Homo sapiens: one gene and its partners. The protein of the gene in region 6 interacts with the protein of the main gene of each other region in a biochemical or structural test. Each region holds a gene or a part of one and is shown on either strand. Other genes may lie near its edges.

Evidence for each region.
Region 1: the proteins of CDC42 (region 6) and ZNF415 form a complex in vitro, tested with the Homo sapiens proteins (one large-scale study listed by BioGRID).
Region 2: the proteins of CDC42 (region 6) and FMN2 form a complex in vitro, tested with the Homo sapiens proteins (one study listed by BioGRID).
Region 3: the proteins of CDC42 (region 6) and ZNF622 form a complex in vitro, tested with the Homo sapiens proteins (one large-scale study listed by BioGRID).
Region 4: the proteins of CDC42 (region 6) and TSFM form a complex in vitro, tested with the Homo sapiens proteins (one large-scale study listed by BioGRID).
Region 5: the proteins of CDC42 (region 6) and PALLD form a complex in vitro, tested with the Homo sapiens proteins (one large-scale study listed by BioGRID).
Region 7: the proteins of CDC42 (region 6) and NQO1 form a complex in vitro, tested with the Homo sapiens proteins (one large-scale study listed by BioGRID).

Annotation. Positions count from the first base shown.
Region 1 is NC_000019.10:53,130,111-53,134,118, reverse strand, and holds the start of ZNF415 (zinc finger protein 415), read left to right. Parts: upstream 1-1,208; 5' UTR 1,209-1,263; exon of another isoform or gene 1,264-1,321; coding exon of another isoform or gene 1,322-1,370; intron 1,371-4,008. UniProt on the Homo sapiens protein: Involved in transcriptional regulation. Transcriptional activity differed among the various isoforms. All isoforms except isoform 3 seem to suppresses the transcriptional activities of AP-1 and p53/TP53.
Region 2 is NC_000001.11:240,210,383-240,213,882, forward strand, and holds part of FMN2 (formin-2), read left to right. Parts: intron 1-708; coding exon 709-853; intron 854-3,500. UniProt on the Homo sapiens protein: Actin-binding protein that is involved in actin cytoskeleton assembly and reorganization. Acts as an actin nucleation factor and promotes assembly of actin filaments together with SPIRE1 and SPIRE2.
Region 3 is NC_000005.10:16,459,301-16,462,800, reverse strand, and holds part of ZNF622 (cytoplasmic 60S subunit biogenesis factor ZNF622), read left to right. Parts: intron 1-3,500. UniProt on the Homo sapiens protein: Pre-60S-associated cytoplasmic factor involved in the cytoplasmic maturation of the 60S subunit.
Region 4 is NC_000012.12:57,792,787-57,795,436, forward strand, and holds part of TSFM (elongation factor Ts, mitochondrial isoform 2 precursor), read left to right. Parts: intron 1-199; coding exon 200-287; intron 288-2,650. UniProt on the Homo sapiens protein: Associates with the EF-Tu.GDP complex and induces the exchange of GDP to GTP. It remains bound to the aminoacyl-tRNA.EF-Tu.GTP complex up to the GTP hydrolysis stage on the ribosome.
Region 5 is NC_000004.12:168,507,052-168,510,551, forward strand, and holds part of PALLD (palladin), read left to right. Parts: intron 1-308; exon of another isoform or gene 309-525; coding exon of another isoform or gene 526-647; intron 648-3,500. UniProt on the Homo sapiens protein: Cytoskeletal protein required for organization of normal actin cytoskeleton. Roles in establishing cell morphology, motility, cell adhesion and cell-extracellular matrix interactions in a variety of cell types.
Region 6 is NC_000001.11:22,083,709-22,087,208, reverse strand, and holds part of CDC42 (cell division control protein 42 homolog isoform 1 precursor), read right to left. Parts: intron 771-3,500; coding exon 661-770; intron 541-660; coding exon 343-540; intron 1-342. UniProt on the Homo sapiens protein: Plasma membrane-associated small GTPase which cycles between an active GTP-bound and an inactive GDP-bound state. In active state binds to a variety of effector proteins to regulate cellular responses. Involved in epithelial cell polarization processes.
Region 7 is NC_000016.10:69,720,061-69,723,560, reverse strand, and holds part of NQO1 (NAD(P)H dehydrogenase [quinone] 1), read left to right. Parts: intron 1-3,500. UniProt on the Homo sapiens protein: Flavin-containing quinone reductase that catalyzes two-electron reduction of quinones to hydroquinones using either NADH or NADPH as electron donors.

The DNA of each region.
Region 1 (4,008 bases), on a different chromosome or scaffold from region 6:
ATATGGTAGGCAAATATTTTCTATTATTCAGTACTGTATTAGTCCATTTTCACACTGCCTAAACCCTCCTGTGACAACCTGAGACTGGGTAATTTATAAACAAAAGAGGTTTAATTGACTCACAGTTCCGCATGGCTAGGGAGCCCTCAGGAAACTTACAATCATAGAGGAAGGCAAAGGCGAAGCAAGGCACGTCTTGCTTGCAGCAGGAGAGAGAGCGATCAAAGGAGGAACTATCACAGATTTTTAAACCATGAGATCTCCTGAGAGCTCACTATCATGAGAACGGCTTGGGGAAAACCACCCCCATGATCCAGTCACCTCCCACCAGGTCCCTCCCTCAACACCTGAGGTTTATACTTGAAAATGAGATTTGATGGGGACACTGAGCCAAACCATATCAAATACCTTTTCTTTCATCGTCTGAAGGTCTTTCACAGACCAAAAGTTTTTAATTTGGTAAATACCAGTTGATTTTTTTTTTCTTTAATGAATCATGCTTTTGCTGCTATGGCTAAGAATTTTTGAACAAGCTCTTGATTCTTACGATTTTATTGTGAGTAATTTTTTCTTTCAGTCTCCTACAGGATACCATTTTATGGTTTGATATTTTACATTTAGGCTATGGTCAATGTTGAACTAATGTCTGTACGGTTGTGAAGTTTGAGTAGAGATGACTTCTTTCCTGCTGTGGATATTAAGTTAGCCCCTCACCAGTTTTTAAAAATTCTTCATTCAATTCCCTTGGTAACTTTGTCAAAAATCAGTTGGAAGTACCTGTAGAGGCTATTTTTGTACTCTCTTACTGTATTGCATCAATCCATATGTCTTTTATTGCCCCAAAACCACACAGTTTTTATTACCTTTCCTATATTGGTAGTCTTGAAATCCAGTGGAGTGATTCCAGACACTTCATTTTTGTTTTTTGGTAACTTTTATGGATCCAATCACTGCTAGTTTTGGATTCCCCACCGAAATCCCAGTTCCCGGACTGCTAAGCTGCAGGAGACTCCCTAGCAGGATCGGGTCCAACCTGCAGGCAAAATAGTTTTAACATAAACCGTTTTCAACTTGGTAAGTGGAAAACATTTTGGTTTCCACCATAAGTGGCCCACACAACTCTGATTTTTTTACCTTAAAGCGGCGCAGACCCCGCCCACTCCAGCCATTCCTTCAGGCTGCCCGGGCTCTTCTCTCCGCGCATGCGCAGTTTCCTACAGGCCCGGAAACGGATCGCGTTGGGTGAAGGTGACGGCGTCGAGCGTGAGTGACCCTCTGTGTAGATTAAACCTGCGCTCCCTGTTTCCCATTTCCACAGCCGATGTCCAGGGTCGATACGGCCCTTAAAATCCCCGTACACTCCACCCCAGGTGAATACAGGCCTCGCAGTGTGGGTCCGGAGTCGCTTCCCTTTGGGTTGAAGTCGCTTTGAGGCTGCTCCCCGTCCCCGGCCTTTTGCTTCTTCCTCCCGCTTAAAACCTTTTCCTGACCCCCTCCCCCATCCCCGGGCTTTTTAAAGTCTTCACCCAAGAGGTGTATTCCCGTCCTGGGTGCCTCCCAGCCTTGCCCTCGTCGGCCCCTGGAGCGCAGCGCCGCAGCTGCAGCCGCAGTCCCGGGGAGCCTTGCGTCCTCTGCCTGGTCCTGGGATCCTGCAGACCCCACCCCTGTCTGAAGGCGCTGTCGCGCCCCACCTCCCTCCTCCTCGTGCCGGGCCCCGCTGCTCCCCAGGCCTCCCCTGAGCCCGCGCTGGGGAGGTGCTCAGGGCCTGTCCTGTGACACCCGATGTTCTTGCCTGCCCTCCTCCACCCCGTGGAAAATGCGCTCCTCCAGGATGCAGGCGTCTTACCCCAAACCGTCCTGTGAATGTGTGGGCCAAAGGGATCGAGGGACAGAGAGAGCAGTAGAAAACCTGAGACAGGAAGGAATGAGGCAAACCAATAAACAGATGGCAAAGTAGAGGATGGTTAGAGATTTTCAGAGACAGTAAGAGTGGAAGAAGAAGCCGAGAAAGTAGCAGGGAGAGAAAAGTAACTAGACACATTTCGAGAAAAAGCACAGTATCCAGAGAGATGAAGGACAGCCAGGTAGGGAGAGGGGCAGCAAAGGAGGAGGCTCCTCAGACAGAGAGTGGGGGAGAGCAGAAGGGATTTGGAGCCAGGGCAGACAGGGCAGTGTGGTACCGGGACAGCAAGAGGGGGCAGCCGATGACAAGGAGAAGCAGAGGGAGAACCACAGCACGGGGAGGCCTGGGATCTGGGGGTGCCAAAGAGTGGGGACAACGGTGTGTAACAGGGAAGAGGGAATTTAACAGGGAGTGCTGAAATGGGGAAGAAAGAGCCAGAAATATGTGGAGACTGGGACAATGAAAAGATTAGGAAGAAAGAGGAATTAAATACATTGCAAGAATGGAAAGAGCAAGTGGAAGAGAAAGAATAGAGGGAAGACGGGGAGGAGCAGCAGGAGAGGAGAGGGGCTCAAAATGAGCAGAATCCTAGGGAGAAAATAAAGGGGAAGGAAAGAGCTAGAGAAAGAAGGTGAGAATGAGAGCGATGTACGGAACGAGGGAGGGAAACACACCATAATGAGGAAAGAGGGGGACCCCAGGTCCAGGTGAGTTGTGAACTGACTGGATGTGATGACTACCTTTTGACCTGTTGATTTCTGTCTTTATAAGTTTAAAATGCACAGATGATGAGAATTGCAAAGCTCCTGTCTATTAAGGCTGGTGCATTTTATAATTATGGCATCAGAAGTTAGCTTCCACTTGCAATCCCTGTTAAGGCAGAGGGAAGTGACTTGACTCATTAATTCCACAGGTCATCCTCTTCCCCTTCCCTGGCGTTGGGGCAGGGGGAGGGGAAGGGGGAGTGGGAGAGTAAAGCTGGGCAGAAAGTGAAAGACTGTCACTACATAGTGTCTCTCTAAAGCAGGGGTGTCCAATCTTTTGGCTTCCCTGGGCCACATTGGAAGAAGAATTGTCTTGGGCCACACATAAAGTACACTAACACTAACAATAGCTGATGAGCTAAAAAAAAAAAAAAAAAAAAAAAAAAAAGTTGCAAGAAAATCTCAAAATGTTTTAAGGAAGTTTAGGAATTTGTGTTGGGCTGCATTCAAAGCCTTCCTGGGCTGCGGATTGGACAACGTTGCTCAAAAGGAACATTAAAAGTGTTGAGGCTGGGCATGGTGGCTCATGCCTGTAATCCCAGCACTTTGGGAGGCCGAGGTGGGTGAATCACAAGGTCAGTAGTTCAAGACCAGCCTGGCAAAGATGGTGAAACCCCATCTCTACTAAAAATACAAAACTTAGCCAGGTATGGTGACACGCATCTGTAATCCCAGCTACTCAGGAGGCTGAGGCAAAGCATTGTGTAAACCCGGGAGGCGGAGGTTGCAGTGAGCCAAGAGCCGAGATCCGGTGACAGAGCAAGACTGCGTCTGAAAAAAAAACAAAGAACAAACAAAAAAAGTGTTGTTGCTTTTTGTAATTGATTTGCTTTTTTTCTTACTAATTCCCTTTCATCTCATGTATAGTTCATTTTGCAACTTGAGATAGATCTTCATTAATTCAGTTTCTATTTTTCTGTATATAATTATTTCCAAAGTAACTTTGGTGGCATCCTATAATCAGCTCATGGCATTTTCTAAATATAATGTGTTTTCAATTTTTTTAGCTCCAAAATTCATCAGATATTTCTTAACAATTTCAAAATCTTTCCCTTTGAAATTAATTGTGTCCAGTTTTGATAGAGGTCTGCATGCTTTCTGCTCTTTATTATATAATAGAAGCATTATTTGTTGACTAGTAGGTAATTTTAGATTGTTTCAATGTGTACCTGATAAAGATGTCAATGATGTTTTTACCTTAACATGGAAACCTAGTTTAACTAGTCTATTATTCAATTTTCTTCTTTTGTGTAATTTGTTAAAATAGTAAGCTGTGAGCTGCATTTGGAACCAATGTGATAAAACCTTGAAGAAGTTTCTTTTGCTCAGATATGTGAAAGA
Region 2 (3,500 bases), about 220 Mb from region 6:
ATTTCTTATATGGATTTTTCTACTCACTACACCATATCGGGGGCAAGAATCTGTATATTCTGATGACTTTTAATTTTTCAGTTCATCTTCTGTGTTGTTACCACGCCACTTATGTATGTGGGTGATTCATTTTAAACTGTGCCCCAAAGTCATTTTCTCTAGATATGACAGGGGAAGTTCTTGTGTTTTGTTGTTGGTTTGCTTTTTAAAAAGATGTGTTTACCCTTTTTAGGTGGTACTACACGAATCTGCAGTCACTGAGAAGACAAATAACAATGGGGTGATGGGAGGCAGTAGGAGGGAGAGGATGCCATCCTGTAAATATGTATTTTTTAACCCATGAATAATCTGCAAAGTTGTTAAGTCAAGTTGGGATTTTGAGAGATCAGACATTTCTTGCCTCCCTAGCCCACACTGAGATAAGTTTTCTTTTTACATTTTTATACAGTGGCCTGATGACTGAGGCTTCCTGGAAATTATTTCTGGGGAAAAATTTCATTCATGGATGGTATTTCAACTTTCCCATTAAGTTGATCAAACAAATGGTGGTCTTAAAGAAAAAGAATATTTTTTCCTTCTTATCTCTCTTCTTTTTCCCTCCTTCCCTCCTGCTGGCCTTCCTCCCTCCCCTTCTTCCTTTCTATTTATGCTTGCTGTGATGTAAGTTCAGTTTGATGGCTGTTTTATTGTTCTTTTGCTTAATTTTAGAGACTCCAGTACTTCACTTATTTGGGAAAAAATTGAAGAGCCATCCATAGATTGTCATGAATTTGAGGAATTATTTTCTAAAACTGCTGTAAAGGAGAGAAAGAAACCTATCTCTGATACTATCTCAAAGACGAAGGCTAAACAAGTGAGTATTTTTGTGCTTTATGAAATTGGACAGTGTTTCTGGCATAAGTGTGAACTGTCATTAGAGAAAACTTTGAAATAGTTTTTGGGCTGTGTAAACCTCCATGGATCTTAGGCAGACAGCAAGGGTTAGAACTTTAGAACATGTGGTTAAGTAAGACTAGCCCAAATAGAACAACACATAATTATCTCCATCCAGTGATAATGTCCCAACTTTTATTTGTAACATCATAATACATATTTCCAAAATATCCGCCATTGTTTCTTTCCAGAATTAGTTGCCTAGAAATAAATTTTCATTTGATTTATGTCCATCTGAGTGCTCCTATGGATGGAAAGAAAGGAAAGAGTGGGCAAAGGAAAACAATCAAGAAATCCAATCCTTAGTAACTGATAATGTGTTTGGTATTTTGTTGCATTATATCTGAAGTGGATGCCATTAGAATCCAGTTAAACAGTCACACTGTACTTGAAATGTGGAAGAGAAATCTTGTATCCATTTCTAACCTCTCTATTTTATGTTAGATCCTTTGATCTAACCTGTGACATTTTTGAGTCATAAAAAGAAAGATTGGTGCATTTCAAGAAAAACATTTCCAAGCAATTTTTTTCTACTGATATATCCATTGGACTTGTCATAAAGGGATATTGTTATAAATTTCTCAGGGGTGTCATTTGGAAAGTAGAGTAAAACCTCATGATAATGAACTCCAGATAGAAAGAATTGCTAATGGTGCCCGTCTTTACCCTGAAATGGAGAGTGGCTACATTTCTTAACTTTTGCAGGGTGGCAGGAAAGAGGTCTTGGAAGCAAAGGAATGGCAAGCAGCTCAGTCTTGGGAAGCAAAGAGGGAAAAATGAGGCTGATATCCCCAGTGTTCTCCTTGCCCAGTAGCCCCATAGGAGTTCCAGCTAATGGGGTGATTCCTCGAATTTGTGCCTCTGACCTGGAAGTAATAGCTAGGCACATGACCTGGAGTTGTTTCCATTGATATTTATTTCAGAGCAGACAATTTTCATTAGATGGACATTGCCAAATCCAGCCAGGAGAAGATGGATTTCAATGGGACAGCTAGACCCCTGTGACCCGTAGTTGGCTGGGTGAGCAGGCTCACCCCAGGCATTTTATTAATCTGAGAATAATGTAAACCCAAACATTATGCAGTTGAATTCTTTTAGAAATGCTTGTTGCATTATCACTGGTTGCTGGTGACCTCAGGTCAGTAACATAGTAAATGAGATGGCACCTGGCACATTGTAGGCACTCAATAAATATTTATTAAATTAATCAGCTGACTAAGGGATGAAGACTTTATAAATATCAGTGGCTATGTCCAGTAGTGATTAAAAACCAGAAGGTTACTCATTTCATAATAATCAGTAAGTCCAGGGTGACAATGTTAAAAGGAGTAATGGAAAATCATATTTTCTCTGGCAGAGATAAATATTTAAAAAATCCTTGGTATATTTGCATATAGTACACTGAGGCTGAATCATCGTATCTCCTCTTTTGGGTTGTGTCAGAGATGTAAAATCTGTCTGGGCGAGGAATATGGGTGGGGCTTACATTGAGAAGAGTCAGGCAGCCGGAACTGTCACATGACAAACGTGTAGATGTGGCATGGAGCCTCTCTCGTCCAGGGACCAAATACTCAGAAAATTGAGCCATGCTCTCCTTACTTCCAGCACCCCTTTTGTTTTTTTGTGTTTTTTTGTTTGTTTGTTTTTGTTTGTTTGTTTTTTTGGCTAAGGGAATACAGATAAGGAAGAAGTCTCCCAGGTTGCCCAAGACTGTAGGATTTCATTCTCTGTTTGACATAGTATTAAGTTTTAGCTTACTGAAATATGATTTACATGTAAATCATCAAACTTCACATTAAACTAGTTGGCATGAAGGGGTCTCAGCATATAAACAGTGCCTCTGTGTTGAGCATCATCATCTTAAGATAATCTCCTCATTCTGTCATTAAGGCATTTCATAAATTGTCGGTAAGAGACTTTGCCAATATCCTCATTTGTGTTTATTGATAGTGACGCTACTGTTGACCTTCAGCTTCAAACAGGGTTTATGGGACAGTCTCCATCATGACTCCAGATAAACCTATTCAGCAACTCCTTGGCCTGGGTCTTGGTGCTGAGCTCTGCACTTCAGATCTGTTTTTGGAGGGACAAAAGATTTTTTTAAATGTATGTTAGAGAAAAATCACTACAAAGTGATGGATTGCTGAAGAAACATAGTTTTATTTAACTTCATTGTATTTGGAAGAAAAATCTGTCCATTCCATTTACTTGAGACATTTAAAATTTTGTTTAAGGAAAGTGTATTTTCAGGATGCATGCAAATTGTTCCCCTTTTTATGGGAAATGTGCACTGATTGTATGTGCAGACATTTTGGTACCTTATGATTCATTTCCAGTAAAATTAATAGCCTTTAATGCCGTGGCATATGTTTATGGAGGTATTTCAAGCAATTCTTCTTATATACAATGGAAGCTGGAAGTTCTGTTTTTGTTTAAATATTTAAAAATAGCCAAATAATTTTTCTGTGATCTCTGTTCTCCTTGAAAGTAAGACTGTGGTTGAATGCACTGGTGTTTAACGAGGTGCCTGTGCTGTTTTTACCGTCATGGCAGAGACGTTTTCAGTG
Region 3 (3,500 bases), on a different chromosome or scaffold from region 6:
TCACATATTGGGTTCCTGGAGAGTCCTTGCATCACCAGCTGTCTCCTGAAGGAGTTGAGACAGTTGCTAAACCAGGCCCAAACCAGGCATCTGATGGTGAGATTACCCCATTGGTGGTTCACCCCTAACTAGAATCTTTTTTTTTCTCTGAGAAAGATTTTTGCTGTCACCCAGGCTGGAGGACAGTGGCACAATCATGGCCTACTGCAGCCTCAGCTTCCCTGAGCTCAGATGATCCTCCCACCACAGCCTCCCCAGCAGCTAGTGTGCACCAATATGCCCTGCTAATTTTTGTACTTTTTGTAGAGATGGGGTTTCGCCATGTTACCCAGGCTGGTCTTGAACTCCTAGACCCAAGTGATCCACCCACCTCAGTCTCCCAAAGTGCTGGGATTACAGGTGTGAGATACCATGCCCGGCCCTAACTAGAATCTTGAATTTTTTTGTATGTCATTTAGCAAATGTATGTTAAGTACTTGTGAACAACTAGTTGTCAAAATTCCTGTGAGCTAGCACAGGAGATAAGCAGATGTGTATAATTACCATGCCAGGCATGCATAGACCAAGTGATACCATGTTCAGAAAAGTCTCAGTCTTTTAAGTCTTCCTTTTGCATTTTCTCCCTGATTTCTCATTTTGCAGCTGGAGACTTGCAGTTGGTGGACATGACTGGGTGGAGGTAGAGGGGAGGATTAGAGGCTGTGGCAGTAGAGAAGACAATGAATGTCTGCTGGTGGTGGGAAGCATCCTCTTTCAGTATTTATCCCTCTCAAGTTTCCTTTTAGACAGCAGTGTTTATGACCTTTTGACTGATGTTGTAATCAGAGTGGTCAAAGCAAATACCATGGATAGTTAAGCAGCTGCCATCAGCAGTAGGCTTGGAATGCCCAGCACTCAGTCTCTCATCCTGTGGTTATATTCAGAATCCTACCCAGTCTCATAGATTTCAATATCTTCTGTAGGCCCGTGACCCCCACATTTATATCTCTAGTATAGCCTTCCCCTCAGCTGTAAACTGAAGATATCCAGCTGCCTCCTTGATATTTCTACTTGTGTCCAAAAGGAATCATTAACTTAACCTGTCCAAAATCAACTCCTGCTATGCATCCTAGTCTGCTCTCTGTAAGTAAATGGCATCTCTGTCCTTCTAGTTACTTAAGCCAAATGCCATGCAGTCTTCCTTTATTCTTCTATTTTCTTTCATGCTTACATTAGAATCGATCACCAAATTCTGCTTTATCTGCTTTTGCACTATCTATCTTCAGAGGCTGACTGCTTCTCACTACTTCTATGGCTACTACCCAGGTCCAGGGCACCATCATCTTTCGCCTGACTTCCTACAGTAGCCTCCTGCTGCCTGGTCTCCATATTTACATCCTTACTACCCACTATGTTCTATTCTCAAAACTGTAACTAGGGGGATCCTTTTAAAACATTAAGTGAGGTCAAACTCTGCTCAGATTCTTTCAAAGACTACCTATCTTACTCAAAGTAAAAGCCAAAGTATAATGGCCTGCAAGGCCCTGCACATAGTGTGGAGCATCTGTGGTTCTGTGGTTTTGTATTAGTTGCTCTCTGGATTCCTAACTATTCCTCTAATGCATCAAGTGTGTTTCTCAAGACCTTTGCATTTGCTGCTGTATTTGTTTATAGTATTCGCTTAGATATTCACTTGACTTGTCCCTCACTTCTTGCAGGCCTTGACATAAATTTCACCTTCTCAGTGTGGCCTTTTTTGACCACCTTCCATAAAATAACACCTACCCAATCCTTTTTATCCTGTTTTATTTTTCCTTATATCCCCTACTGCCATTGTGTGTATTGTATATTATTTATTGTCTCCTCCTTCTAGAATCTAAGCTTCAAGCCCTAGCCTTTTGTTGTTGTTACTCTTGTTCTTTACTGGGTGTTGCTTAAACCGTTAGTTTGAATTAAAATATGTAACTGATGGAAACGGTTCTCCCTTAGTCCAGATGATGTATTTTTCATTCCATTTACAGTTTTATTCTGTTGGTGCCTAGAAATGAGAAATTATATGAACTTTTCTTCCTAAAAATGAATATTAAATGATTTGTTTGTCTTAAAAAAATAAAAGTCAGCCAAGTGTGGTGGCATGAGCCTGTAGTACCAGCTGCTTAGGAGGCTGAGGTAAGAGGATCACCAGAGGCCAGGAGTTTCAGGCCAGCCTAGGTGACACAGTGAGACCCTGTCTCTAGGGGAAAAAAAGGAAAAAAAAAAAAGTTGATAATGCTTAATAAAGAAAACTTGGAAAATAGAAAGCCTTTACATACAAAGCTAGTGTTTATGGAGTGCTTACCTGCCAGACACTGTTCTAATAAGCATTTTATGTGGATTCACTCAGCTAAAAAATGACAAATTACCTAAATTTCACTCCCCTTCACAAGGTAACTTGTTTACTTATTTTGGACCTGAAACTTTTTATTGAAGAATAAACTTACAGAAAAGTGCATATATGTATACAGCTGGCCCTCTGTAGTCATAGATTCTCCATCTGTGCATCCAAACTAAAGTATTCGAAAAAAATTTTGTCCATACTGAACATGCACAGACTTATTTTTCTTGTCATTATTCCCTAAACGTTTAGTACTGTGTAACAACTATTTACATAGCATTTACAATGTATTAGGTATTAATAAGTAATATAGAGATGATTTAAAGTATGCAATGATTTAGGTTATATGCAAATGTTATACCATTTTATATCAGGGACTGGAACATCTGCAAATTTTAGTATCCTAGGGAGGTCCTGGAAGCAATCCCCCATGGATACCAAGGGATGACCGTACTTGTGATATCATGATTCAGTGTAGTGAAATTTTAAATATAACTAGCACCTAGATCAAGAAACAGCATGTTAATAATACCCTGACATTTCCCTTGTGTGTCCTTCCAGAAACTACCCCTCCTTTCTCCAAGAGTAACTACTATTCTGACTTATAGCTGCATAGATTGGTTTTGCCTGTTTTTATACTTTATATAAATGGAATCACAAAGAATGTACTCTTGGGTGTGGCTTCTTTTGCTCAACTTTATGTTTGGGAGACCCATTCATACTATTTTATATAGCTGTGGAGAGTTCTTACTGTTACAGAGTGTTCTGTTCAGTGCTCCACAACATCTAGTCTACTGTTGATACACATTTGAGTGGTTTCTAATTTGGGGCTATTACAAACAATGCTGCCACATCATTCTAATGTGTCTTTGGCAAATGTTTATAGGTTATCTGTTGTGTGTATATGTAGGAGTTGGGCCAGAGGATATACATATGTTCCATTTTAGAAAATACTGTCAAATTGGTTTCCAAAGTGGTTTTCTATACTCCCACTTGTAGTGAGGGAGAGTTTTTCATCTTAGCAACTTTGGTGGGTGTGTAGTGGCTTTAATTTGCATCTCCCTGATGATGATTACTGCAATCAAGAGGCTTTTTGCATATTCATTGGCCATTTGGATATCTTTTTGTGAGGTATCTGATCAAGCAT
Region 4 (2,650 bases), on a different chromosome or scaffold from region 6:
TCACCATGTTTGCCAGGCTGGTCTCAAACTCCTGACCTCAGGTGATCCACCCACCTTGGCTTCCCAAAGTGTTGGGATTACAGGCGTGAGCCACCACGCCTGGCCAATACTTTTCTTAGAGATAGACTATTTTTGCCTATTCTTTTGATAATTTGAATAGTACAGAATCAGTTCATGTTTGTTTTCTTCGTGCACTTAGGGTTTCTTGAATTCCTCTGAGCTTTCTGGACTTCCAGCTGGGCCTGACAGAGAAGGCTCACTCAAGGATCAGTTGGCTTTAGCAATTGGTGAGTATTTGTAAAGGTTCTGGAAACTGGAAATTAGGGACTGGATCTCTTGTTATCTTGTTCCTCCAAATCTAGGTCAAGAATCATGTGCCTACAAGGGTCAGATGATACGAACGTGAGAAGTGGTGTGTGTGTTAGATGTTAGGGAACATTAGGCATCTTTTTTTTTTCCGAGACAGAGTCTTGCTCTGTTGCCCAGGCTGGAGTGCAGTGGCGCAATCTCGGCTCACTGCAAGCTCCGCCTCCCAGGTTCCTGCCTCAGCCTCAGCCTCCCGAGTAGCTGGGACTACAGGCGCCTGCCATCACGCCTGGCTAATTTTTTGTATTTTTAGTAGAGACAGGGTTTCACCGTGTTAGCCAGGATGGTCTTGATCTCCTGACCTCGTGATCCGCCCGCCTCGGCCTCCCAAAGTGCTGGGATTACAGGCGTGAGCCACCGCGCCCGGCCACATTAGGCATCTTAAAGAGCTCATACGCTGCTGGAGGAAGTCCCATTGCCAAGCTGTAACCAATTGTTATATCTAGGGAAACGGAGTCCTGGGGTCATCAGAATTTCTAAATTCCTTAAAAGAATTTAGATTTGTATCCAAAATCTCACGGATTTTGGCTGTTTGCAACTAATTAAAATTATTTTCATCACTGTGCCAACAAAACAAAGCATGTCTTTAGGCAGAGATGGCCTTTTGACTTCCAGCTGAGTACTTGAGTATATGCTGTAGGGAAAATAGTACATTAAAGATTATTTCCTCTTCTTTATAAAAGGTGGCAGGACAATTGAGGAGCATTGTTTTTAGGAATTTGATCTTTCTTTTCAAAAAATCTGGTTGTGAATTTGTAAAGATACATTCTTTTAGAGCCTGTTGGCTATAGGAACCACATCTGGATCATTGTGGTGGGACTAGCATCTTGCTTTCTTCCTAAGTATCCTTGATGGAGGGTGGGTGGTAGGGAAGGGTTGGAGCTTGCTGGGAATTTACTAATCTGAAGTTTCCAGTCAAGGCATCAGTTCCGTTTTTATCAGGTCATCTTGTATTATCTATGATGTTTCAATGAGTCATGGGTGAGAAACCAGGCAGACAGCTATGTATGAGGCTTATTAAGAAATTCTGGAAGAGCTGGGTGTTTCAGCCTTGTCAGTTTCTGGGAATTAACTATTGGGTATATGCTTTGAGCTATTTTAAAATTTGTTTTGGTTTCTGGATTCTCCTTTTTCATGACTTTTAGATATGACTATGGCTAATCCAGGCATACTTATACAGACCCTTTTGTTTATTCTCCTACCCCTTTTTACCTTTTGGCTTATTTGGACTTCTGTTAGAAGAGAATAACATCCTGAGAGAAAGGGGAAAAATAAGTTAAAATCTGTTTCTGGTTCTCATAAATAACTCTTGACAATGTTATCTTTTCTGTTTTTGATGAGAGGAAATTGAAACTATCCGATGACATGGTGCTTTGAGCTGTGGACTTTTTCCGGATAGAAGGGATGATCAGGAGTTGTCTGTGTCAGTTATGGAGTATTCAGGATGGTGGGAAAAAGCACCTAATTGCTTTGGAGTCAGATCTGAGTTTTAATTCTAACTCTGCCTTGTGTTACTAGGTGGGTTACCTAAGTTCTCTAAGCCTAAGCTTATTGTAATAGTAGCTAGCATTTGAGTGCTATGTGCCAGATACTATAGTTAATGCTTTATTTATTTATTTATTTTTGAGACGGAGTCTTGCTCTGTTGCCCAGGCTGGAGTGCAGTGGCACAATCTCGGCTCACTGCAAGCTCTGCCTCCCGGGCTCACGCCATTCTCCTGCCTTAGCCTCCTGAGTAGCTGGGACTGTAGGTGCCCGCCAGCACGCCCGGCTAATTTTTTGTATTTTTAGTAGAGACGGGGTTTCACCGTGTTAGCCAGGATGGTATCGATCTCCTGACCTTGTGATCCGCCCACCTCGGCCTCCCAAAGTGCTGGGATTACAGGCGTGAGCCACCGCACCCAGCCCTAGTTAATGCTCCATATATATATATATATGTATATATATATATAAATTTTTTTTTTTGAGATGGAGTTTTGCTCTTGTTGCCCAGGCTGGAGTGCAATGGCATGATCTCGCTCGCTGTAACCTCTGCTGCCCAGGTTCAAGCAATTCCTCTGCCTCAGCCTCCCGAGTAGCTGGGATTACAGGCATGTGCCACCATGCCTGGCTAATTTTTTGTATTTTTAGTAGAGACGGGGTTTCTCCATGTTGGTCAGGCTGGTCTCAAACTCACAACCTCAGGTGATCTGCCTGCCTCGGCCTTCCAAAGTGCTGGGATTACAGGCGTGAGCCACCACGGCTGGCTGCTTTTACATATATTATTTATTTCTCCCCAAAACCCT
Region 5 (3,500 bases), on a different chromosome or scaffold from region 6:
CTCCCTTCTCCTGGGCTCTAGATCAGCATCTCAAATCTCCTAGACATCAACACCAGAGTTACCAAAGGTCCCTCAACTGCAAAAGGCTCAAATCAAAATCAAGCTTAAAAAATAAAATAAAATAAAATAAAAAAACTTGTTCCTCCACTTGTAGCATGTAAGTTAATGGTACCAGTCATCTGGTTGTTGAGGTGAGAAACCTGTAACCCTGCCTCTGCATCACCTCTGCCTTTAATCAATTACCAAGTTCTTTCCTTTCTATCATCTATCTTATGGACCCTGGACCCACTGCTTCCCTGAATCACCAGCTCTCACTTCAGAGTCCAAGAAGGACACATCTAATCGCTGTCTAGGCCAAGTGCCAAGACTTGTGCCCAGTCTCCAAGCGGCTGGGAAAGAAAATACTTGGAGATTTCACATCCCATTACAAGTGAGTTCAGTTTCTCACTGAGCCTCAGAATATGAGGAATTCTCCAAAATGAAGACGTCCAGATGACAGCAACACCAAACGTGAAACCATGATAAATGTGTGCACCCCCTGGATTACTGCACAAGCCTTCTCACGGACCGCCCTACTGTCAGTCTTGTCTTCCTCTTTCCCTACCTCTGTCCCGGATCCAGACTGCAATCAGTTATCTCTCAAAAATGTAAGTCTGGTGATGTTTCTCAAGGACTTAACACTCTTCCTTGCCTACTGACTACCCATAACATAAAATGCAAGTTCTCTGCATGGCTCCAGGCCCTCTCTGACCTAACTCCTGCTTTCTAGCCTTATCTCTGGTTATTTTCCCATCTCCAGATAGATTTCTGTTTAGCTGAAATGCTTAGTAGAATTACCTGAGTCTGCCATGTGCTCTCTGGGATCCAAGTCTTAAAATACATATTTGCCAGTATCCTCTTCACCTCCCCGCTCTTCCTCATCCCTCACACATCATTCTTTCAGCTTTCTCTCTTTCACAAAGGTTTCCTGATCCTGACCTTGCTGTTGCTTCTAGGTGCTATCACAGCACTTTGTTTTTCTATACCACTGCAGGATGACTATAGCTAACAATAACATACTCTATAGTTTCAAATGGCTAGAAGGAAGATGTTGAATGTTCCCAACACAAAGAAATCATAAATGTTAGAGATGAATATGCTAGTTGCCCTGATCTGATCACTATAAATTGTACGTATTGAAACATCACTAGGTACCCCATAATTATGTATAATTATTATTTGTCAATTTAAAAAATAAAATACAATTTAAAAAAAGACATACTCAATTATATAAGCTTATTATTTAGTTGTAATTTGTATTAAGTTCCATGAGGGCAAAAACCTTCTCTTTTTCAAGGTCATATCCCCGTCCCTAGCGCACTACCAGGCATGTGGTAGATAGTCCATAAATACACTTCGAGTGGGTAATTCTGGTCCATGTAGTACATCTATCCCAGCTTAGGCTTCACAATTTCGTCATGTCAAGAATCAAAGGTTTTGTTGCAATTATTTCCTTGGATTTTCAGCTTAATCTACCACAGGTTTGGTTGACACAAAATGTTTTTCAATCTCCTTTAGCACTGATTTCAACACAAAAACTGAATTTCTTTCAGGCCATAATAAATAAATAAATAACAAATAAAAAACACAGTAGCTTTCTTTCAAAGAAAAATAAATTTTACAAGAAATGCAATAAATGAAAATATAGTCTGTTGTGCCTTTGGTACACAAACCTACTTTCAGCCCCCGAGTCTCCCCCTCTCCACCTTCATGTCTCTTCTGGATCCATGTTACCTAATGGCTCATCTCCCCACACCTTGTAAGAGTTGATCCTGATCCTGGCTTCCCCTAAAGTTATCTACCATGTGTGCTGACTGAGGGGCCAATTGTACTTCAGAGCTCATTACTGAGAGAAACCAGGCTGCCTTGGTAGGACAAACTATAAAACGTTTTGCAATATACAAAATGGTACTGGGTGTCCTTGCAATAGACACCCAGTACCATTGCTGGATTGGCTCTGGTGGACGTTCCAGGGTCATCTAATTCCACAGGGGTCTATGCCTTTTATTGTCTTTACAATTTTACAACTCTGTAAGTTGGAAAAATCTAAAAACAATGCAAATTATACTGGTGCATAGATATACAAATGATTTTTTTTCTAGTAGAAATGCTATAGTTTTCCACTCTTATGATTCCAAACATTGTATTTTATTGCTCTATAGATATTAACCAGTTTCAAATCTATTACCAACTTCATATCAGCATGCCTGATTGCCTACATGTGTCTCATCTTCAGCGTCTCCTTTGAAATAATTGTAATATATTACTGATTTTTTCAATTGTTAAATAAAAGCTCAAATACATGTTATTTGATTTTTATATATTACTATACCTTTGCCTTTTCAAAATCATACTTTAACTGCCTGTTTCTCATGAAGAAAATACATTCAAGTATTAAAAATACACTGAATATAATTGTTCCTCATATACGAGCCATATCTGAATAACTGGAGACCAGTCAGGATGTTTCTATCCTGCAGCACAGACTGGACAAAGGAATTAGAGTGATATTTGGGTTAGTAAAGTCAGGGAGAATGATGACACCCTCTGAAGGATTAAGGATTTACTTGAAGAAGAGTGCGAAATATGGTTCAGTAGATAGAGTAGGGCTAGCATGTGGTGAATCTAATAATTCAGGCACAAAAAAAGTAACTATCTTTCTAAGAAGACATGTAAGACAAAAGTACAGTATTCCACTTAAGAAGATGGGGTATGTTAACATTGAGTTTCAGGATCTCTGATTAACTACCCTCTGTTAAACAGCAGGTCTATGACTCACTGCATCCAGTGAAGCAGTAGGCTCTTGAGCTGGATTTCTACAACCCCCTCGACTCTTGCATAATGTATTTTGAAATTAGAGATTTTCTTAGATGGGAAGATACTTCTACGCAAGCAACTCAATTCAGTCCTCTGAAGACACACCATTTCTGGGGAATGTCCCACCAAGTTTACTCCTGACTGACACAAGGTAGAAAGTTGAGGTTCACCACATCCAGGAAGCTTCCATTATTCACTCCTAGACTCAGTCTTGTGGCAGACATCACCGCTGATGTTTTCTAGATCGTCCCTCTCAGTACTCTATGAACAATATATAGCAAAAGAATGGCACACTTAGAGTAACAAGGAGTCATTGCTTCACAATATAAAGTTCAAAATGTCAGTGGAATTTAAAGCTGTAATAGCTTACAGATAATGAAATACCTTTTATTTAATTCTGCTGATATTCCCATGTAAGTGTTCTATGCCAGGCCTCTAGTTATCTCATGCCCTTTAAGATTAGATTAGACTCTCATAGCCCCCAGGTTTTTCTCACTTTCCTTAAAAGCCTTATCAAAATTTTATATTATTAACATATTATTTGTTTAATATCTTCTCTATCTCCTCCACTTTACTACCTCCCATGACTTTTAACTCCTTGAACATGATAACTGTGCTGTAAGTCTGGATGAAGGGTCAGCAAA
Region 6 (3,500 bases):
AAATTTAAGTGTTTAGAAAAAAAAAAAATCATTCACATCGTCTCTTGCAAGTTTATGCTTATCTGAACCTTTCCTGTAAGGTTTTTGTTTTAACACAACCCTGACCACTACGAATCATTCAGTACAATACGAGAGCTTACCAACACAAGGGGTTTAGGAACTAATAATATTCTCCAAAAAACACAGAGGCCTCTAACAAAAGAACATACAATATGAAGCTGTTCATATTCTTGCTGGGCATCTTTGAGCACTGCTGATCACTGTTAGAAATAACTCCTGTATCCTAATGCTCTAATAAATGACTCGACCATAAATACACATGGGGTTTCATGCCATTCTTACCTGTGTAAGTGCAGAACACTCCACATACTTGACAGCCTTCAGGTCACGGGCCAGCTTTTCAGCAGTCTCTGGAGTGATAGGCTTCTGTTTGTTCTTGGCAAGTTTCTCAATAGTAGAGGGGTCATCTCTGAGATCAATTTGAGTCCCAACAAGCAAGAAAGGAGTCTTTGGACAGTGGTGAGTTATCTCAGGCACCCACTAAAAAAAGGTATTTTAAAATACACCTTTGTTAATCAACAAGCCTCTAATGCTATTTATAACAGGTCAGTAGAAATTCTGAGATGATCTTCTTAGGGCAAGAGTATCTGATCAGCTTACCTTTTCTTTCACGTTTTCAAATGAAGATGGAGAGACCACTGAAAAACAGACTAGAAATACATCTGTTTGTGGATAACTCAGCGGTCGTAATCTGTCATAATCCTCTTGCCCTAGAAAAAAGAAAAATATTGGAGAGAATTCAGCAACTGAATCTTGGTGTCCTCAAAGTGTTAAAAGCATGCTGGTCATTACTCAAAAAGCAACTTACTTATCTAATAAAATGTATGGCTTTGTAATATAATATGTGGGCAATATTCTCAATCAGCTAATTCTACAAACTTCAAGCACTCAGAACAGCAATGAATTTACTATTATGTTATTTGCTTTTATTACCAGTTTGTGGTGTTCAATCTTTGTGTCCATTAGAAACCCAATAATAAATGTAATAATAAACTCTTGCTACAGAAATGGTTAAAAATCAATCCTTGTAATCCCAGCACTTTGGGAGGCCGAGACAGGCGGATCACCTGAGGTCAGGAGTTCAAGACCAGCCTGGCCAACATGATGAAGCCTCATCTCTACTAAAAATATAAAAATTAGCCGGGTGTGGTGGTGCACATCTGTAATCCCAGCTACTTGGAAGGCTGAGGCAGAAGAATCACGTGAACCCAGAAGGCGGAGGTTGCAGTGAGCCGAGATGGCATCACTGTACTCCAGTCTGGGTGACAGAGTGAGACTCCATCTCAGATATGGTAAAGAAACAATCACAGTGAAATCATCTAAGGAAAGAAAAACCTCACTGAAACCCAGATGACAAAATCCACTGCCCATCATGACTACAAACAGAGGTTCACATATTTAGTTAATGCGTGTATATAAGACCGGTATCTGAAACTGATAAAGCCTAGAAAACAAATTTAGCAAGAATTAATCGATACTCAAAATAATAAAAATACTTAGAATTAACTTAATCAGAGGCAAAAGACTTGGATAACAAAAAAATTCAAAACTGCTGAAAGAAATTAAAGAAGACATAAATAAATGGAAACACATCCCACATTCATGAACTGGAAGACTTAATATTGTTGACATGTCAACATTATCCAAAGCAACCTACAGACTCAATGCAATCCCTATCAAAATCCCAACAAGGGATAGTAATCTTGAAACAAGGGACAATAGACAAAATAATCTTGAAAAAGAATAAAGCTGAAGCACTCCCATTTCCTGATTTCAAAACTTACTACAAGGCTACAATAATCAAAACAGTGCGGTATTGGCATAGGGAGATATATAAGACAATGGAATAGACTAGAGAACCCAGAAATAAACCCTTACATATGTGGGCAAATGATTTTTCTTTTTTTTTTTTTTTTTTAGACAGAGTCTCACTCTATCACCCAGGCTGGAGTGCAGTGGCACAATCTCGGCTCACTGCAACCTCCACCTCCCCAGTTCAAGAGACTCTCCTGCCTCCACCTTCTGAGTAGCTGGGACTATAGGCACACACCACCGCACCAGGCTAATTTTTGTATTTTTAGTAGACACAGGGTTTCACCATGTTGGCCAGGCTGGTCTTAAACTTCTGACCTCAGGTGATCTGCCCACCTCAGCCTCCCAAAGTGCTAAGATTACAGGTGTGAGCCACCGTGCCTAGCCTAGCTCAAATAATTTTTGATAAGGGTGCCAAGACCATTCAGTGGTAAAAGGACTCTTCAATAAATGGTGCTGAGAAAATGACATATTCACAAGCAAAAGACAAAGATGAAACCTTACCTAATACTATATACTAAAATTAACTCAAAATGGATAAAAGGTCTAAATGTTAGACCTAAAACTTTAAAACTCCCAGAAAACATAGGGCAAAAGATTCAGGTGGACTTGGCAATAATTTGTTTGGATATCACACCAAACCACCAAAAAATAGACAAACTTCATGAAGCTGTGAAAATTTTATACATCAGAAAATAGTATCAACAGAATAAAAACGCAACCCACAAAATAGGAAAAAATATATGCAAATCGTGTATGTGATAAGAGATTAATACCCGGAATCTACAAAGAACTCCTAAAACTTACCCCAAAAAAAAAATCCCAATTCAAAAATGGGCAAAGAACTTGATTAAACAGACCTTTCTCCAAAGATATATAAATGGCCATAAGATGCTCAACATCACTAATCATTAAGGAAATACAAATCAAAACCACAATTAGATACCACCTCACACTAATTAGGATGGCTACAATTAAAAAAAAAAAAAAAAAAAAAAAAACAGGAAATAAGTGTCGAACAGAAGAATGTGACTATATCAAACCCCACGTACTGTTGGTAGGAATATAAAATGGGACAGCCACTGTGGAAAACAATACGGAGGTTCCTCAAAAAAATTAAAAACATGATCCAACAATTCCACTTCTGGGTATATACCCCAAAAGAACTGAAAGCAGGGTGTCAACAAGGTATCTGTATACCCATGTTGATAGCAACATTATTCAAAATAGCTAAAACGTGGAAGCAATTCATAGCACCAGTATTAAAACTGGAACCCAAACATCCATCAACTTGTTAATGGATAAACAAAACTGTGATATATTCATAGAACAGAATAACACTCGGCAATCAAAAGAAACAACTACCAATACACACAACATGGACAACTCTCACAAACATTATGCTATGTAAAAATAGTCACACAAAAGACTACATATTGTATGGTTCCATTTATATGAAACCCTAGAAAAGCAAAACAGTAGAAACAAAGAAAGCAGATCAGTGGTTGCCTGGAACCAGGTCAAGGGACAGGGCTGACTGCAAAGGGAACCCAGAAATAAACACTCACATATATGGTCAAATAATTTTTGATAAGGGTGCCAACACCATTCAGTGGTAAAAGAACTCA
Region 7 (3,500 bases), on a different chromosome or scaffold from region 6:
CTCCCAAAGTGCTGAGATTACAGGTGTGAGCCACCGCGACCCACCCACAACCTTCTTTTGATCATTTTTCTTTTGAGTTGTTTTGGGGATCTACCTATTCCAGGTACTGCACTTTGATGGTTATATTTGTTGCAAATATATTATTCCTGCTTGTGTGTTGCCTTACATGAAAAATTGTAAAGTCACAGGCCTGCTTATAGCTATTAGAGTCTGAGCTCCTTGAAAGAGCAAGAGATGGATATCCTGATTTGCTCATTTTCTGAGAAGTGCCTTGACTGTCTTACTACTTAGAAAATGCTTGTTAACATTGATGAGAAGTCAATAAAATAAAAACTGTTGGCTGGGCGCTGTGGCTCACGCCTGTAATCCCAGCAGTTTGGGAGGCCGAGACAGGCGGATCACGAGGTCAGGAAATCGAGACCATCCTGGCTAACACGGTGAAACCCCGTCTCTACTAAAAATACAATTAGCCGGGCGTGGCGGCGAGCGCCTGTAATCCCAGCTACTCTGGAGGCTGAGGCAGGAGAATGGCGTGAACCTGGGAGGCGGAGCTTGCAGTGAGCCGAGATCGCGCCACTGCACTCCAGCCTGGGCGACAGAGCGAAACTCTGTCTCAAAAAAACAAACAAACAAAAACTGTCAGAGCGGCGATCAGTAAACATTGATAAGACTAATGGCAAGGTAAGTTACAAAGAAAATGCCTGTTAGAGCTGAATATGCTCACTTCCCTCCCAATCATGTTAAATCCATGGGTTAAAGAGGTAGGAATTTGTTGAGGCAGCCTCAGAGCTTCCTTTTCCTTTTTCCAAGCTATCCCAAGCAAGTCAATCACTTCCAGCGCATTGAAATCATCACCAGACACCTATTCCACTGAGTCTTAGTTTTAAGAGTCCAAAACCCTAGGACCAAGTTTGGAAATCCCCTGGTTTGGCATATTGGGCCCTGAAAGTTACACTTCGCTGAATTTAGCCCAAGAGGCACTTGCCTTGCTAGATGTGGTCAATAATAAAAGCAGGAAGAGAGCTTAAGGTTTAAATGTGCCTTTCTAGTTATTTTAGTTATTTCTAGTTATTCAGATGGTGCAAAAAAGTTGCAGATGCCGGCTGGGCGCGGTGGCTCACGCCTGTAATCCCAGCACTTTGGGAGGCCAAGGCAGGTGGGTCATGAGGTTAGGACATCGAGACCATCCTGGCTAACATGGTGTCTCTACTAAAACAAAAAATACAAAAAATTAGCCGGGCGTGGTGGCACGCGCCTGTAATCCCAGCTATTCGGAGGCTGAGGAAGGAGAATCGCTTGAACCCGGGAGGCAGAAGTTGCTGTAAGCCGAGATGGCGCCACTGCACTCCAGCCTGGGTGACAGAGCAAGACTCCATCTCCCCCGCCCCCACCCCCACCCTGCCAAAAAAGTTGCAGATGCCTTCTCTCCCAGCTCCACCCACTGTTCATGGTAGGGTATGAAGTAGCAGCGCACATTATCAGGAGCAACTGTGGGGGTAAGCGTCCTTTCTCTGGCAATTCGCTCTATGCCCTTGTACGCTGTTGTTTGTATTTCTCACTGTTTGTAAGTCTCACTGTCGCCCAGGCTGGAGTACAGTGGTGTGATCACGGCTCACTGCAACCTCCACCTCCCTGGCTCAAATGATCTTCCCACCTCAGCTTCCTAAGTAGCTGGGACTACAGGCACACACCACTACGCTCAGCTAATTTTTTTTTTTTTTTTTTTTTTGGTAGAAACGGGGTTTCTCCATGTTAGCCAGGCTGGTCTCAAACTCCTGGGCTCAAGCAAGCTGCCTGCCTCGGCTTCCCAAAGTGCTGGGATTACAGGTGTGAGCCACCACGCCCAGCCACTCTCTGTGTTTTTAAATTATTCCAGCTTCACCACTTAATGACTACACACTTGGGTAACTTGCTTCTCTCCTGTGCCTCAGTTTTCTCATCTGTAACATGGGGCTACTCATGGTATTGACCTCATAGGGTGTGTCTCAGTCTATTTTGTGCTGCCATACATAATACTTGGGACTAGGTAGTTAATAAAAAAGAGAAATTGATTTCTCACAGTTCTGGAAGCTGGGAAGTCGAAGATCAAGGTGCTGGCAGGTTTGGCTGTCTGGTGAGAGCTGCATTTGGAGGAATGCTGCGTCCTTACATAGACGGTGGGAGGTAGAAGGTGGAAGGGCAGGTGAGCCCCGTGCTGGGCGAAGCCTCTTTTATGAGGGCCTTAATCCCACTCATGAGGAAGGAGACCCCCTCGCCTAATCACCTATCACAGGCCCCATCTGTTAATCCTCTCACATTGGCAGCACCTGAATTTTGGAGGGGGACACGTTTAAAACATAGCAGGTTGTCCTGACAAAGGAAGAAAGTGCAGGCCGGGCGTGGTTGCTCACACCTATAATCCCAACATTGTAGGAGGCTGAGGCAGGCAAAATTGCCCCAGCCTGGGCAACACGGCTCCAAATTTGACCAGCCTGGGCAACATGGCAAATCCCTGTCTCTACAAAAAAAAAAAAAAAATTAGGTGTGGTGGTGCACACCTGTAGTATCAGCTACTCAGGAGGCTGAGGTGGGAGGATAGCTTGAGCCTGAGAGGTCAAGGCTGCAGTGACCTGAGATCATGCCACTGCATTCCAGCCTGGGCAACAGATCGAGACCCTGTCTCAGAAAGAGAAAAAGAAAAAAAAGGAATGCAAAGCACTTAGGGCAGTGCCTAGCACTAAGGATCCACTAAATACTGTTCTTGCAAATTGAAGCATGCTGCCTCTGACAACCTTGTTAATATAAAAGAGGCCCATTTCCCTTCTACCTGTACCTCTTTGCCATTTCTTATAAAGGAAGCTGAGCTGTTAATAGTTCAATGTGATTGGCCTGGCACGGTGGCTCACACCTGTAATCCTAGCTACTGGGGATGCTGAGGCAGGAGAATCGCTTGAACCTGAGAGGCGGAGGTTGCAGTGAGCCAAGTTCATGCCACTGCACTCCAGCCTGGGCAACAGAGTGAGACTGTCAAAAAAAAAAAAAAGTTTAATGTGATCACTGCACATTTTTCCCCCTCATACCAAGGTGCTGCAAGTCTACATACAAATATATGTCATTTCTTTTTTTCTTTTTTTTTTGTATTTTCTTTTTTCTTCCTTCCCTTCCCTCTCTCCCTTCCTCTCACTTCTTTCATTTTAAATAAAAATGGGTTCATATTCACTTGCTTTTTTATCAGTTAATAATATAGCATGGATATCTTTTTGAGTCACTACATATAGTTAATTCATTTTAATTTTTTTAATTTTTAAAATTTGTTTATTTGAGACAGGGTCTCCCTCTGTCACCCAGGCTGGAGTGCAGTGCGGCGATCACGGATCACTGCAGCCTCAACCTCCTGGGTTCAAGTGATCCTTCCATCTCTCAGCCTCCTGAGTAGTTGGGACTACAGGCATACACCACCATGCCCAGCTAATTTTTGTACGTTTTGTAGAGAAGGGATTTCGCTTTTGTCATGTTGCCCA